2 linked regions of the Homo sapiens genome follow. The protein of the gene in region 1 interacts with the protein of each later gene in a biochemical or structural test. Each region holds a gene or a part of one and is shown on either strand. Other genes may lie near its edges.

Region 1 (7,021 bases):
ATAAGCCAAGGCCATCCAGGATCGAGCTCTGGTTCTCTTTCTCCTCACTGCTGTCCTTGCTCTTCCCTCTCCACCCACAGCAGTCCCCTCCTCTTCCCTTAAAAAGCCAGTTGCAAGCTCTAGCTTCAGGGGCCTCACACTGGGCATCCCCTCTGCTTCACGTGCTCTTTCCACAAAAGCACAAACCTCACCCCCTTGGATCCTTTAACTCAAACGTCACCTTCATAGCTGGGCAGACCCTGACCACTCTATCCAAAACTGTACTCCCCACCTGTTTTCTCAGTTCCCCTTATTCGGTTCTATTTTTTTCTCTTATAAACTTTAAACTTTATGTCTGTCTCTTCCCACTAAGATGTAAGTTCCACAGGGCAGGGATTTTGTTCATGTACATGTTTTGTTTCCAGGACTAGAAGACTGTGTGGCACACAGCAGGTGCTTATTAAGATCTTTTGTTAAATAAATGAATGAATATTAAATACTTCAAACCCTCAACTCACTTAAAATTAGGGTTGTTTATATAAAGATGATGGATTACTCATTTTTACTATATTGTGGAAGGATAATTTTATTTCCAGATGATTATTTCCAGTTTTTAACGTGAAATCTGGAGAACTGTTTACTAGCAATGGTTAGACAACTCAACGTCTTATCTTTCTAATGCTTGTAAGTAAAAAGCTTTGTCTGGTTTAGGCAGCATGAACTTTACATCAGGTTTATGGTCTTTGGTTCTATGAAGGGCAAAAAATTGGACTGCATTTTTATATTTTATGAACATGTTCATAAACCCTTTTATTGGTGCTCTCAACAGCTGATTTCATGGATAATATGAAAAGTTGAAATGCATTCAGAGAACAGCACAAAGAATGATTTTCTTGGTCTAATTTATACAAACAGAGTGAGGGTTCACCTCTGGCCATGAACTACGGAAGGTTTTTAAGGCTACTAGTGACTGGCTAACCTGCTACTTGTCCTTCCTACTAAAACTGAATAGAAGAGAGAACCTTCCTCTTTTTCTGTGTAGAAAACAGAAATTAATTATTAGTTGCCTGAAGTAGATGGGCCTAGTTAAATCCCAAAGAGATTTTAACAACCAGGGATGTGAACTTCATCGTGGCTCAGATATCAAGTTATCAGACACATGCAGAAGGTGTGGATTGCTAATGCATTTTACAGCTTTGTTGAATATCTAAATTTAGGAAGTATAGGCTATAGTTTAGAAAGGGTCACAAAATAAGATCTCCTACTGATTTATATGAAGGTTTGTACAATCAGATATAACCAGGGGCACCTGTGAGTTGGTTCCCATGGTACCTGTTGCTATGCATGCTGATTTTTGGGGATCCTGGAAGGGGAAAGGTCACCATGCTGCTGAGGCAGCCAACAAGCAGAATGGGTAAAATGTGTGGGCAAAGTGTCCAGTTTCTGTATTTAATTTGTGGACATCAAAATGAAGCAAACAAGATTTGGCCCTAATTAGACATGATGGAAAAAATGTGAAAATATCCAAGTAAGGTGCTGAGAGAAATATTTGATAAATACAAGTTTTTGGTATTTTATTACTTGGAGGGGGAAAAAGCCAAACACAGCTTACATGAAAACAGCTCTCATCATTCAACAAACTGGAAAGTGTTTGCAGATATTTCCCAGAACAACTCCAGGGCCAGCTAGATTCCTAACCAGAACAGGAACCCACAAAGACAAAACAAAAACGCCAGTGCCCACCTTGTTAGTTTCACTGGTCGTGTCTGTGGCACTCTCTTCCGCCTCTCCCCCTTCCTTCTCCTGAAGGTTTTCATTCTCGTCCAGAAGCTTAACAGGGACAGGTGGTGGGGCCTCCTCTTCTGGATCACATGAATTTCCAAGGATACTCTCTACATTAACACTTTGACGACATTTTTTGTTTCTGTCCACCGAGGCATATTCAGCAAACTCAGCTTTGCCTTCAGTCTGGGGCCCTGGGAGCTCTTTCGAGGCAGAAGTAGATTTTGCCTTGCCACTGTGGCCTTTCTCCAGGTGTGCAGCTGCAGCCACCTCCTTGATCTCTTTCACAGTTTCATACAAGCAGTCCTCCACCATGTTTTCTTGGGAGGAGCTGTCCTTGAGCACTTCATAGGGCCCTTCCATCCCCAGCCCCTGGTCCCCGTCCACACTTCTCGCCGTGAGCATGGTATCCACTGCGCTCTCGGGAGGGATTCTGGGCAGCTCCCGACTCTGATGACATTTTGGTTTCCCTGTGCTGTCCTGGGAATCCAGCAGATCCGAGGCCGATGTCTGGACTTCCTCGTAATGCTGCATGCAGGTCAGAGTACTGTCCTCTGAAAGAACTAAAGCAGCACACACATTAAAAGCGGAGAAAGGCAAGTCTTTCAATAATTATTACCGAGAATCAGGTAATATAAAGTTAGGTTAAATCAAGATGCGTGCTTTTTATTTAAGTCTCAGGCACAAATTATAGTTGTTATGACCATCAGTTGGTATCCTACTTCAATCACAGTTTAAAATAAAGCTGTTCATTATATCTTTCCCAATACAAGATTTAATAAGTTATCTTGGCTCTAAGTGTAGTTCACAATTACTTTCCTTAATGTCACTCCAATGAGAGACTCTTGTAGGCAGATTGTCCAATGTGACCAGAAGATGACCAGTTTGATGCCGCTGAACTATGGGAGGCTGGACACCAGAAAGGCAGCATGTGCAGTGACCACAGTCCCCAGCACCACTGACCCCTGCCTGTGTGGAGGGAATTATTGGTAGCCACCCCCTTTCACACAGGTGACTTTTGTTTGGCAGACATAATAGAAACTACAGGGCAAACATGCACCCGTCAGCCATTAGCACAAAGGGACTGGCACCTCATACCTTGCTTCCATCTCATCCCGCCACCAACATTCCTACCTCAAATTAGAAAAAAACCAAATGTGAAATTCTTGGCCAGCCACAGATATGCTATTGTGTGAAGCTGTTCAGTCGTCCCTTTGTCAACCGTGTTGTGAGTGCCTGCCATGCACCAGGGATGGTGCAGGGTGCTGCAGACACATCATTCAATGAAACAGAAAGCCCTGCCCTTAGGATGCAGACACAAAGTAAGCAAGTTATTCCATTAGTGTCTCACTCTGGGGGAATTAGAAATAGTGTTTCCAAGGGGTATGTGAAAAAATGACAACGGATCCCCCAATCCTTCTGAACTTACCAACACCCCTGTGTGTTCTAAATCCCTGATCATCACGGAGGGGGTGAACTTTTGCTCTCTGGTTCTAGTTGTCTACATCATGGTAGACAGAGAACAGGCACTGGTGTCCTGATTACCCCACAGTTTCCTCATCAGTAAACAGGGGTAACAGGACGCCCTCTTACCTCAGGTAAAAGCATGGTGTAAACTCTAAAGCATGAAGGAAACCTAGCTGCTCCTTCCATCAGCAAGAGTACACAATGCATGATGCAGAGGTTATGCAGAGTGACTGAGTGCGTGCCCAGGGATCAGACTGCCTGGTTCCAACTACAGATCCTTAGCCCGCTGACTATATGATATCAGGCAAATTAGCAACATCTCTGTGGAAGGCAGAACGACCCTGAAAAATGTCTGTCTCCTAATTCCTGGAACTTGTGAATGTGTAATGTTTTGTGGAGGGTATGGAGGGATTAGGGCTACAGGTGGAATTAAGGCTGTTAATTAGATGACTCCCGGATGAGAGGGAAGCCTGGATTATCCAGGTGGGCCCAGTGTAATCACAAGGGTCCCTATAAGTGAATAGGGAGGGGGGAGGGTCAGAGAGGGATGTGAAGAATGAGGGAGAGGCCAATGGATTCTCCTTGAGGCTTCAGGAAGGACCACAGGCCTACGGATGCCCTGATTTTAGCCCAGTGAGACCCATTTCAGACTCCTGACCTCAGAATTGCAAGTCAATAAATTGTTATTTTAAGGCATGAGGTTTGTGGTAATATTGTTACAGCAGCAATGTGCCCAGTTTTGTCACCTTTAAATTGTGAGGAGTAATAATACCTATCTTACAGAGTAGTGTTATTATTAATAACAGTAATCTCGTGGGGTAAATGAATTAGTACATGTAAATGTACTAAAATGTACTAAAAGAGCAAATGAATTAGTACATGTACCAGTCTTAGAACAATGCCTGGCACACAGAAGTGGATTAATAAGTAGCAGTATTCATCCAAATGAGGGGTTCTGCTAAAACTGCTAGGAATACTAAAACTGAGCAATAACACATTTCCTACTTTTTGAGCTATGTATTTTGAAACCTAGGACTTCCAGAGGTGATGAGGCCTGTGTGGAAAGCTGGTGTTTTTGCAGAACTTACTGTCCCCATTGGTGAGTGCCCCATTCTGCTCACTGCTGGCAGGAGCATCTGTTGCCAGGCTAGTAACTGAACGGCTGAACATCTCCTTGTCTGAAGGCTGAAAACAAAAACAAAAACAAAAACAAATGCATCACATTGCTAAGAATCTGGACTGCAGAGCAGAGGAGAAGATCCATGGCTTTTTCAAAAAATTAAAACAGCAGAAACAGAAAACAGAATCTCCTATAATAGTCCCCCCTTATCTACAGAGGGTACATTTCAAGACCCCCAGTGGATGCCTAAAACCATGAGTAGTACTGAACCCTATATAGACTATGTCTTTTCCTATCCATATATGTTATACCTATGATGATGTTTAATTTATAAGTACAGTAATTTAACAATAACCACTGACAATAAAACAATATAATATAATGAAAGTTATGTGAATGTGCTCTTCCTTTCTCTCAAAATATCTTGTATGGTTCTCACCTATTTTTGGATTGTGGTTGACTGTGGGTAACTGAAACTGCAGAAATCAAAACTACAGATTAAGGGGAGCTACTGTTTTTAGATTTAAATTAAGTAAAATAAAATACACTAAATTGAGTTCCTTGTTGACTAGTCACATTTCAAGCGCTCAATAGCCACATGTGGCCAGTGGATACCATATCCAATAGGAGATACAGAACACTTCCAGCACTGCAGAAAGTTCTATTAGACACTGTTGTCCCAGAATCTTAGGGGCACTGGGAATCTTCCAAAGCCATGTGCAGAGCTTCCTGCCTGGTGACCTACACAGGGCTATAGGCAGGTTGTGAGATATCAATTCCCTTAGCTCAAGGCAGGAAGGGAACTGGTTGAAAAAGACCACAGCAGCCTCATCCTTACAACACAGGTGCTGTAAATCATTATTGGTAAAGGTGTGCCATGCTATGAGAAACGTGGAAAGGCATCACCCTTTGTCATGTGAAGGGAACAGACTTAAATCTGGTCAGAGATAGATAAGGCTATTGATTTCTGAAACTATTTTAGAACCAGCAAAGCCTCTGGCTGCTAGGTTCACAGAAACAATAATATGCTGAAAATTAGCTCTGCAAACTTTTTATTTATTTATTTATTTATTTTTTAAGATGAGGTCTCACCTTGTTGCCCAGGCTGGAGTGCAGTAGCATGATTATAGCTCACTGAAGTCTCAAACTCCTGGGCCCAAGAGATCCTCCTGCCTCAGCCTCTGGAATCGGTGGGACTACAGGTATGCACCACTATGTCTGGCTGCTCCCATAAGAGATGGGATCTTGCTATGTTGCTCAGGCTGGTCTCGAACTCCTGGCCTCAAGCGATATGCCCACCCCAGCCTCCCAAAGTGCTGGGATTACAGGCGTGAGCCACTGTGCCCAGCTCTGCAAATCTTTCTTATTCTTACAAATAAACTTAGGACATTTGGAGGGAAGAATGGCATCAATAGTTGGTTTTCTGCAGGGATAGAATGTGTAGATGCTACCTAGAACAATATGCCTGGCTCAGCTATAGCTAAGAGTAGTCAGAAAGCAAGTTGGTGTTCATGTATTTCTTTAAATACCCAACTTGTCTCAGGTTGCAGCCCAAATCACTGCAAATGTGATTTGCTCCCTGTTCTTCTCACAGCCTGCACGTTCCAAGAGGCTATCTCATGCTCCAGGATTCTACAAGGAAAGTTGTGATGTAAACAGCACACAAACCTTTGCTAGTTGGCCTCACAAATTCTCTGACTCTTGATTGGAAGCCAGTAATACACAGCAGATAGTTCATGCTGTGCAATGATCCAAAAGTGTATTGGAAGTCAGCTGTTTCCATCCAATGCAGCTCATTCACGTCTGATGAGCCCCCAGTGAGATGGGTCACTGTGTTAGGTTGCCAGGAACTTGCAATGCAGGTGCTAATATCCCAGAAATGATGTTATAAATGGGCAGGCATGGGTGTGGGGAAGGAAGACTCCCAGGTGGGCCCATAACAGCATAATCGATCACAGCTGAAGTTACCATAATCTAGACTCTAACTACTATTCCTAATCTTTGCTTCTATGAGATGAAGAATCCGCAAGTTGTATAAGATCTAGGAGCTGAAAAGCTCTTAAGGAGAGCTGGGTGGGCGAGCGTGTGTACATGGGTGCCAGTGTCCGGGTAAGCATGCGTTCCTGTGTGTGCTCGCGCTCTCTCACAGACATTCACATCCATATAAATGAGGCTATGGGTTGGGGCAATAATGAATTATATGGTGGATGAGGAAGAAGGCAGGGGATGGAAGCCAGCTTTTTCCTTTTATCCACCTGCCACTCTCTTCCTATCTCGCCCAGGGCTGCTGCTGACCTTGAGTAGAACAGCGGGAACCCAAGCTCTAGGCCAGTGGCTCTCACACTCGAGCATACAACTGGATCACCTGGGGTGCTTGCGAGCCTTTTACTGGGCCTCACCCCCAGGAAAATTCGCATTTCTAAGGAGCTCCCAGGTGCTGCTGCTGCTGTGGGTGGAGGTCCAGGCCACACTGCAGAAGAACCCCTGCTCTAGAAGGAAGTGAGGAATGGCGGTGGGAGCCCTTCCCCAGCCCCACCTCACCACCCAACTGGCACCAGGAGAATGGTGGAGTGACGAAAGGCAGGGGCCTGGAGTCTGCATGGGGAGAAGCGACAGTGGGGCGTTCCCTCCATCCCTCCCACCCTCCCTGCTGAGGCCACCACAGCAGCAATC
Region 2 (7,263 bases), on another chromosome or scaffold:
ACTGCAGGCTCCGTCTCCTGGGTTCACGCCATTCTCCTGCCTCAGCCTCCCGAGTAGCTGGGACTACAGGCGCCCGCCACCACGCCCGGCTAATTTTTTGTATTTTTAGTAGAGACGGAGTTTCACCGTTAGCCAGGATGGTCTCGATCTCCTGACCTTGTGATCTGCCTGCCTCAGCCTCCCAAAGTGCTGGGATTACAGGCGTGAGCCACCTTCAAGTCTTGATTCACAGGTTATCCCCTCCGAGGCATGCCCTGACTGGCTCAAAATTACATGCTCAAGACCTCGCCTACCCTTTCTGATTTATTTTACTCCTTAGCACCTGTAACCATGTGACATACTCTATGAAATATTTATCTATTTTGTTCATTCTCTGTCTCTCCCACTAGAATGTCAGCTCCATGAGGGAAGAGATTTTCATGTGCTGTTCACTGCGGATCCATAGAACAGAGTACCCGGAAAAGAGTCTGGCATAGAACGGGTGTTCAGTATTGAATAAATAAGTAGCCAGGGGTCTCAGGAGGTGGCAGTGCCATGGCAGTTTGAAGGCTTCCGAAGGAGCCATCCACTTGAGAAGCCCCCAGGGGAGAGCACAGCATGTGGCTGCTGTGGTCAAGCAATTCTTTTCTGACTTAAACCAGCTGGATTAATTTTTTTTATTTCAGGGCAGGGCGGTGGTCACTTTCAGCCTTCAGGGACGCCTGAGTTGTGCTTGGCAGCCTGCAATACTGGAGAGCTGCCCCTGGAGGGCGCAAGGGAATCCCGTTGCTGCACTCGGACGCGCAGTCACTAGACATGAGAGATGACGGTGGTGGTAGCAGTAATGGAGCATTTGCCTTTAGGCCTCTTTTAACTTTCACAACAGCCTACAAGACAGGTACCATTATCCCCGTTTCCTAAGGGAGGAAACCAAGGCGCAGAGAGGCTAAGTAACGTGCTCACGGTCCCTCAGGGTTAAGTGGCAGAACCAGAAAAGAACCAGAAGGAAAGGAGATACAAGTCACCATTTTTGGCCTGGCGCGGTGGCTCACGCCTGTAATCCCAGCACTTTGGGAGGCCGAGACGGGTGGATCACGAGGTCAGGAGATCGAGACCATCCTGGCTAACGGTGAAACTCCGTCTCTACTAAAAATACAAAAAATTAGCCGGGCGCGGTGGCGGGCGCCTGTGGTCCCAGCTGCTTGGGAGGCTGAGGGAGGAGAACGGCGTGAACCCGGGAGGCGGAGCTTGCAGTGAGCCGAGATAGCGCCACTGCAGTCCGGCCTGTGTGAAAGAGCGAGACTCCGTCTCAAAAAAAAAAAAAAAAAAAGTCACCATTTTTCTGTACACCCAGAGGGAATCCAGGAGGGGCCCTGGATGGACCTGTTTCCTTTGGGGCTCATTGCACTGGGGTGTATCTCCTCTCGGGCCTGCTGGAGCCTCCACCCTATCTCCCTGCTGCACGTCTCCCAGCAGTGGCTTGTGTTCTCTTAACTGTGCAGCCAGATTGGACCTGCTCAGCTCCAGGTGAAATGGACAGAAAGCCCATCCCTGCCCGGTCTGAGGATTGGGAAGCCTTCCTGGAGGAAAACACGCTTAATTGGAGACCTGAAAGAGGACTAGGAAATAGGCAGGTGAAGAGGTGTGGGCAAAGACCTGAGGATATGGGGGTGACTGATGAATTTCTTCGAGGCTCTTGGCATGAGTAGAGTGAATGTTTACCCCAACCCGATGAGGCAAAGGCACCGCAACTTTCCTAGCCCACATTTCCATCCGTTTGCCCTTTACTGTAAACATTCAAAAGATGCATCCACCTCCTTCCACTCTGGCAGAACAGAGGACCTTATCTGCATGCCAATCTCGGATTATCTGTAGCCCAATCTCAGAGCTGTCTGAGCACTGGGCTTTGTAGTTTCCAGACCAGCCTCTGGGACAGGAAGTGGGGGGCTCAAGGGTTGTAGGGCCAGTGCCTTGCAGAGGCTGGGAATCCCCTTCTCAGGACCTGAAGACCCTGGAAACTGGAAGCCCCCCACCCACACAGAGGCACCCTGTCCCATAGCTGGCTCAGCTTCCAGCTCCCTGGGGCGCTGGCCTCCTTCGGGGAGATATTTTACAACCAAAGTTTTCTTCTTTTATGTCCAGCAGCACGTGGGTGGGGTCAGGCTGCCTGGGCTGCAATCCCACCTGGCCACTTGGCATCTCTTAACCTCTCTGGGCTTTACTTACCTTATCTGGAAAATAGGTTGAATGGCTTATTAATTGTGATGTGCGTACAGCAATGTCTGGCACATAATCAGTGCGACTCTCATTATTGTAGTATGAATGTGATTTGATGCTGTAATTTCTCCTCTCTTCAGGGTGCCGGTGTCTTTTTCTCTCAATACTCCAAGAAATGAGCGTCCAGCATGGATGTGAAGGGATGCTTGCTGCACCTGGAGTTTCAAGATGCCGCTGGGGAAAAGGGAGGCTGCTAGCAAACACCATTTTGGAGGGGGCTGTATGAAGGAGAAAAGTAGCCTAGAGCCGGAACTCAGATTTTCTAAAGGGGATTCAGGCGGCCAGAGGATAGTAGAGGGCCAGAAAGGAGGTCCCCAAGGAGGCTTCGGGGTAGGGTGTGAGGGGATCCTCAGGCAGACTGGGGAGCTGAGCCTGTTGTAACCGAGCGAGTTACAGAGAAACGCCGCACTTTGAGACGAATTCAGGGGTCCTTTATTAGCTGGCGACTGAGAGACAGCTAGTGCTCAAAATTCTCTCAGCCCCAAAGAAGGGGCTTGATTTTCTTTTATACTTTGGTTTAGAAAGGACAGGTGGGGGTCTAAAACAATCTTACAGAAGTAAAGCAGGCAAAAAGTTAAAAGGATAAATGGTTACGGGAAAGCAAACAGTTCCAGGTGCAGGGGCTTAAAATCTATCACAAGGTGATAGACACGGGGCTTTGGGCGTTATCAACCGGACACAAACGCCGGGGCTCTGGGTGCTATTAACCGGGCGAATTCCTGGGAACTGCGGATATAGCTTGCCACAGTATCTTATCAGTTAATTGCATTCTTGGATGTGCTGGGAGTCAGCTTGCACAAATTAAGTCCTTGAGGAAGCGGGGTGGGTAAGGGGCTGCAAATGAAAGAGCCAAGATGGAGTCTGTCTGGCTCTCTTAGCTAAGGGAGAGTCAATTCAGGTTAAAACAAGGTAGGGTATCACAAGCCCACTTAACAAGGGCAGCAGGACCCCAAGAAGAAAAGCTTTAGGAGTCTCCACAGTGGGCCCAGGGCAGTTCCACACAGGTCTCTGAGGCCCCACAGACAGGAGAGCTGTGACGACTCCCTTAGTGCCCAAGAAAGCAAGGAGGTGGTGGGCAAGGGGCTCCCAGAGGCCTTGGGGCACTAGAGGGGAGATGGAGCCGAGGGAGTGGCTCTGCAGGCCCCTCTCTGAGAGAGTGCATGAGGTGTGGCCCCAGGCCCAAGGGTAGGGGGTGCACAGGGTGAGGGAAGGGAGGAGAGGAAGAGGAGGAGGAGGTGGTGGCCACAGCGGGATGGCACTCAGCCAGGTTCAGCTTCGTGGGAAAGGTCCCAGGTGGGCCGGGCTAGCACTGGGGATGCCCTGGCTCTGTGTCTCGGTTGGGTGGCTGACTCCTCCTGGAACGCATCCCTGACATCCTCCAGGCTGGCTTGGGGATACTCTGGGGACACACAGTGCCCAGGCTTCCGGCCTCCCAGCCCTGGCTCCCTGTGGACTCAGCTGCCCCCAACAAGCCTGCGAGCCACTGGAGAGCAAGGGCAGGCTGTCCTTGCCATCCAGATGCCTGGCACAGAAGGGGTTCTCACCTTCGGGGTATGGGCTGACTCAGTGGGTTTCTCCTCCCTCCAGCTCTAACCTGCCTGTGGAATAAACAAATCACTCCTCTGGGTTGTCTAGCTGGTGCAGGCCCCAGGGCGACGCCCCTTTGAGGGGAAAATGGGGGCATTCCAGTTTCCATGAGCCCTGGGACTCCCCTCCTTCCCACCACTGCTGCCTACCCTCCGGTTCCAGGTATGCAGGCTTCCTCCCTTCTGACGGTTCCTGCTGCTGGAGTCGTCCTTCCTGAAACCCTGCCTTTGCTTAGCCTCATTCCCATCTCTCAGTCCCATCCTGCAGCTGGGCAGGCAGTGCTGGGCCCCGGAAATGCCCTCTGCCTCCCTGGAGCACGTGGCCTGTGATTTTCCTTGAGCACAGCACTTTGTGACTTTGATGTAAACATCAAACACAGCCCCCTTTCCTGTCTTCGCATCCAGGAAATAGGTTAGTTTCAGACAAGCCTGCTTGCCGGAGCTCAGCAGACACCAGGCCTTCCGGGCAGGCCTGGCCCACCGTGGGCCTCAGAGCTGCTGCTGGGGCATTCAGGTAAGCGGCTGTCCTCGGGCCTTCTGCCTGTGTCCTGCCACCAGGGCCACCCCAGGGGGCTCTGGGAGACCTGGCAGAGGATGAACCCCCCCCATCCATGAGTGAGAAACCCTGGCGGGGTGTGACATCCTCCCCCGGGGTGTGTGCGGAGAGTGTGAGCGGCAGGGCCTCCCTCTCAGGCTGGGGGCTTGGGCTGCAGGGAAATCCAAACCGGCTTTGTAAGCCCCGATTCCTCACCCAGAACCGGCTCTCCATTGGCATTGGGACCAGAGACCCCGCAAGTGGCCTGTTTGCCTGGACATCCACCTGTACGTCCCCAGGTAAGTGGTGCCTGGGTGGAGTGGCACCTGGCCACCGTCTCCATGGTGGGCTGTGTCTGGAGGAGGAAGACAGAATATTAACTGGGAGTCAGGAGGTTGCTGGGAGGACCAGGAGAGCTGGAGGACTGGGCTGGGTGGTGACTGGCTGGAGATGGAGGCAGACGGGGCTTGTGGCCACGCTGAGGGAAGCAGCTCCCCCTCCAGAGGCTTGGCCGAGCGGGGCTGTTCAGGGGACACGGTGAGGCCTGCTCAGTCCCTGGGCTCCTGCTGGGCCCTGTTTGGCTGCATCCTTGGCTCTCGGAGGCAGAGAAACCTCCAGAGAAAGCGCATGTGCACTCTGTGAAGATGAGGGGGCTGCTCACCAGGGCCGTGAGCTCCATCAGCAGAATGCTGTGATTCCTGTGAGGAGTCCAGGGCAGGCTTGAGCCACTTGTAGGCGAGCTCAGGTTAGAGGAAGACCTGGAGAGAGAAAGAGCAAAACACCGAGTTCTCCTCAACTGCTGTGTGTTCTCGGCAAGTTGCTTGGCCTCTCTGACCTCAGTTTGTGCATCTGTTAAATGCACATGCAGATATGGGCACCTGGCAGGCGCCTGGTTCCTGACTGTTGGCGAGAGGCTGGGAAATGTGTCCCAGGTAGGAAGCATCCCCGACAGGAAGGAACAGGAGTTCATGAGGTGAGCAGCTCGAGATGATTCATTACTCTCGTCTTGGTTGGAACAGTAGGCAGACAGGAGGTGTTTAATAATGCCTTGCTGAGAGATCAGGGTCAGGGACTCCTAAGGTGCCACCTGTGAAGCTGCCTCCTGCTGAATCCAGAGCTTCCTTTTCCTCTTCACACCTGCCCTCCATCCTCAGCCCCACTGCCCTGGCAGTGTTGCGGGGGTGGTGTTGATGTGCACACTCTGGAGCCTGGGGGCCTGGCTTCACATTCTGGCTCTGCCACTCACCAGCTGTGTGACTGGACCAGTCACCGCATCTCTCTGTGCTTCCCTCCCAGGGCTCTCGGGAGGATAAAGAGAGTGACTGTATCCACACTGCCCGGCACATACAGGTGCTGCAGAAAGGTCTCACTAAAACCCTCATTATCCTCACTAGCTCTGGGTGGCCTCGGGCTCTGGACTCCACAGTTCCTGTATGCTCTCCGGGGCTGCAGCACCCAGACCACCCCGTGCTGACCACTCCCTGCCCCACCCCAAGGTACAGGGTTAAGGCAGCCATTCTCATCAGAGCCAATTTTACCTCCTCCCGTCTCCCTGGGACAGTTGATAGTGCCTGGAGACAGTTTGGGTTGTGACCCAGCGGGTGTTACTGGCATCCAGCATGTCCAGGACAGGAATCCTGTGAACAGCCTACAAGGCCCAGGACAGTCCCACCCTGTTCCATTGTCTCTATCAGCCCCTATCCTCCTGACTCACACCGCCTTTTCCCATCTCCCTTTTACAGTCACAGAGCCTGAGGCCCAGAGAGGGACCGCTGCTTGCTGAGGTCACACAGGCAGTGGAGGCCGGAGTTGGGGGCCTCACTGGAGGGGCGGTGGAAGGGCATTGTTCAATCAACAGACACTTGGAGAGTGTGCTGGGTTGGGGAATCTGACCCTGACCCCGCACCAGCCCAGCTCTCCAGGGTCTCCTAATAGACATTTGCTGGAGTGGTTAGTGCTGGCTGCTGCATTGGACAGACCTGAGTTCAAATCCTGGTGGCCCCTTGCAGGCTGCATGTTCTGAGAGTGACATTGACCTCTCCGAGCCTCAGTTTCTTTAGCTGAGGAGTGGGATAACAGTTCCCACCAAATGTAGTTGTGGTGAGAATTAGAATAAATGGCTAATGCTCGCAAAGGGTAGTGCAGTCCCCAGCACAGAGGCTGTTGTGATTGTCCTTACACACTTGACAAATATTTGTGGGGAGGAAGCAGGAGCTTCCATAGAAAACAAGACAGAGCCGTGGGCCCTGCCTCGGGGAGCTCAGCCTGGTGAGGGACTGAGGAGCAGAGACAGAGGCCATCAGGGCTGTGATGTGGGAGGATGGGGACCCTGGAAGCCTAGGGGAGGTGCCTGACCCAGGCTGGGGAGGGGGCAGGGCTCATGGAATGCTTCTGGGAGGATGGGACAACGGAGGAGGCCTGAAGCCGGAGGCCCAGTAGAAGGATGCAGCGCAGTTCTGGGCTGAGGGAATAGCCTGTGGCCAGGATCCTCAGGATGGGCCCCTCCTCTCCCGCCATCCTCCACCCAAGGAAGCCCCTGTGGCCCCTCACCCCTTCCCAGGTGTCAGGTTCCACCGGTGCTCAGAGGCATCCCCACCCATCCCAGTGGACTGCAGACCTTTGTAGGTACCTGGTATATTGAGCACCTCCTCTGTGCCATGCTGGTATAGGTAGGAGAACAAGACAAAGGCTCCACTCCCGTGGTGCTTACATTCTGGCAGGGACAAAGGTACTATGTCACCAATAGATACAATATCATCTTTTAGGTGGTGAAGAACAACAAAGCTGGGTCAGGGCTAGAGAGAGAAGGAGAGGCTATTTTGGAGAGGGAGGTCAGGGAAGGCCTCCTGGAGGAGGTGACTTAGGCAGAGACCTGAATAAAGTGGA

Evidence for each region. Proteins that work in one complex are often made in the same cells at the same time.
Region 2: the proteins of PAG1 (region 1) and ZAP70 form a complex in vitro, tested with the Homo sapiens proteins (one study listed by BioGRID).

Annotation. Positions count from the first base shown.
Region 1 is NC_000008.11:80,983,054-80,990,074, forward strand, and holds part of PAG1 (phosphoprotein associated with glycosphingolipid-enriched microdomains 1), read right to left. Parts: intron 6,214-7,021; exon of another isoform or gene 6,017-6,213; intron 4,414-6,016; coding exon 4,317-4,413; intron 2,325-4,316; coding exon 1,723-2,324; intron 1-1,722. UniProt on the Homo sapiens protein: Negatively regulates TCR (T-cell antigen receptor)-mediated signaling in T-cells and FCER1 (high affinity immunoglobulin epsilon receptor)-mediated signaling in mast cells.
Region 2 is NC_000002.12:97,709,319-97,716,581, forward strand, and holds the start of ZAP70 (tyrosine-protein kinase ZAP-70), read left to right. Parts: upstream 1-4,257; 5' UTR 4,258-4,356; intron 4,357-4,563; exon of another isoform or gene 4,564-4,597; 5' UTR 4,598-4,676; intron 4,677-7,263. UniProt on the Homo sapiens protein: Tyrosine kinase that plays an essential role in regulation of the adaptive immune response. Regulates motility, adhesion and cytokine expression of mature T-cells, as well as thymocyte development.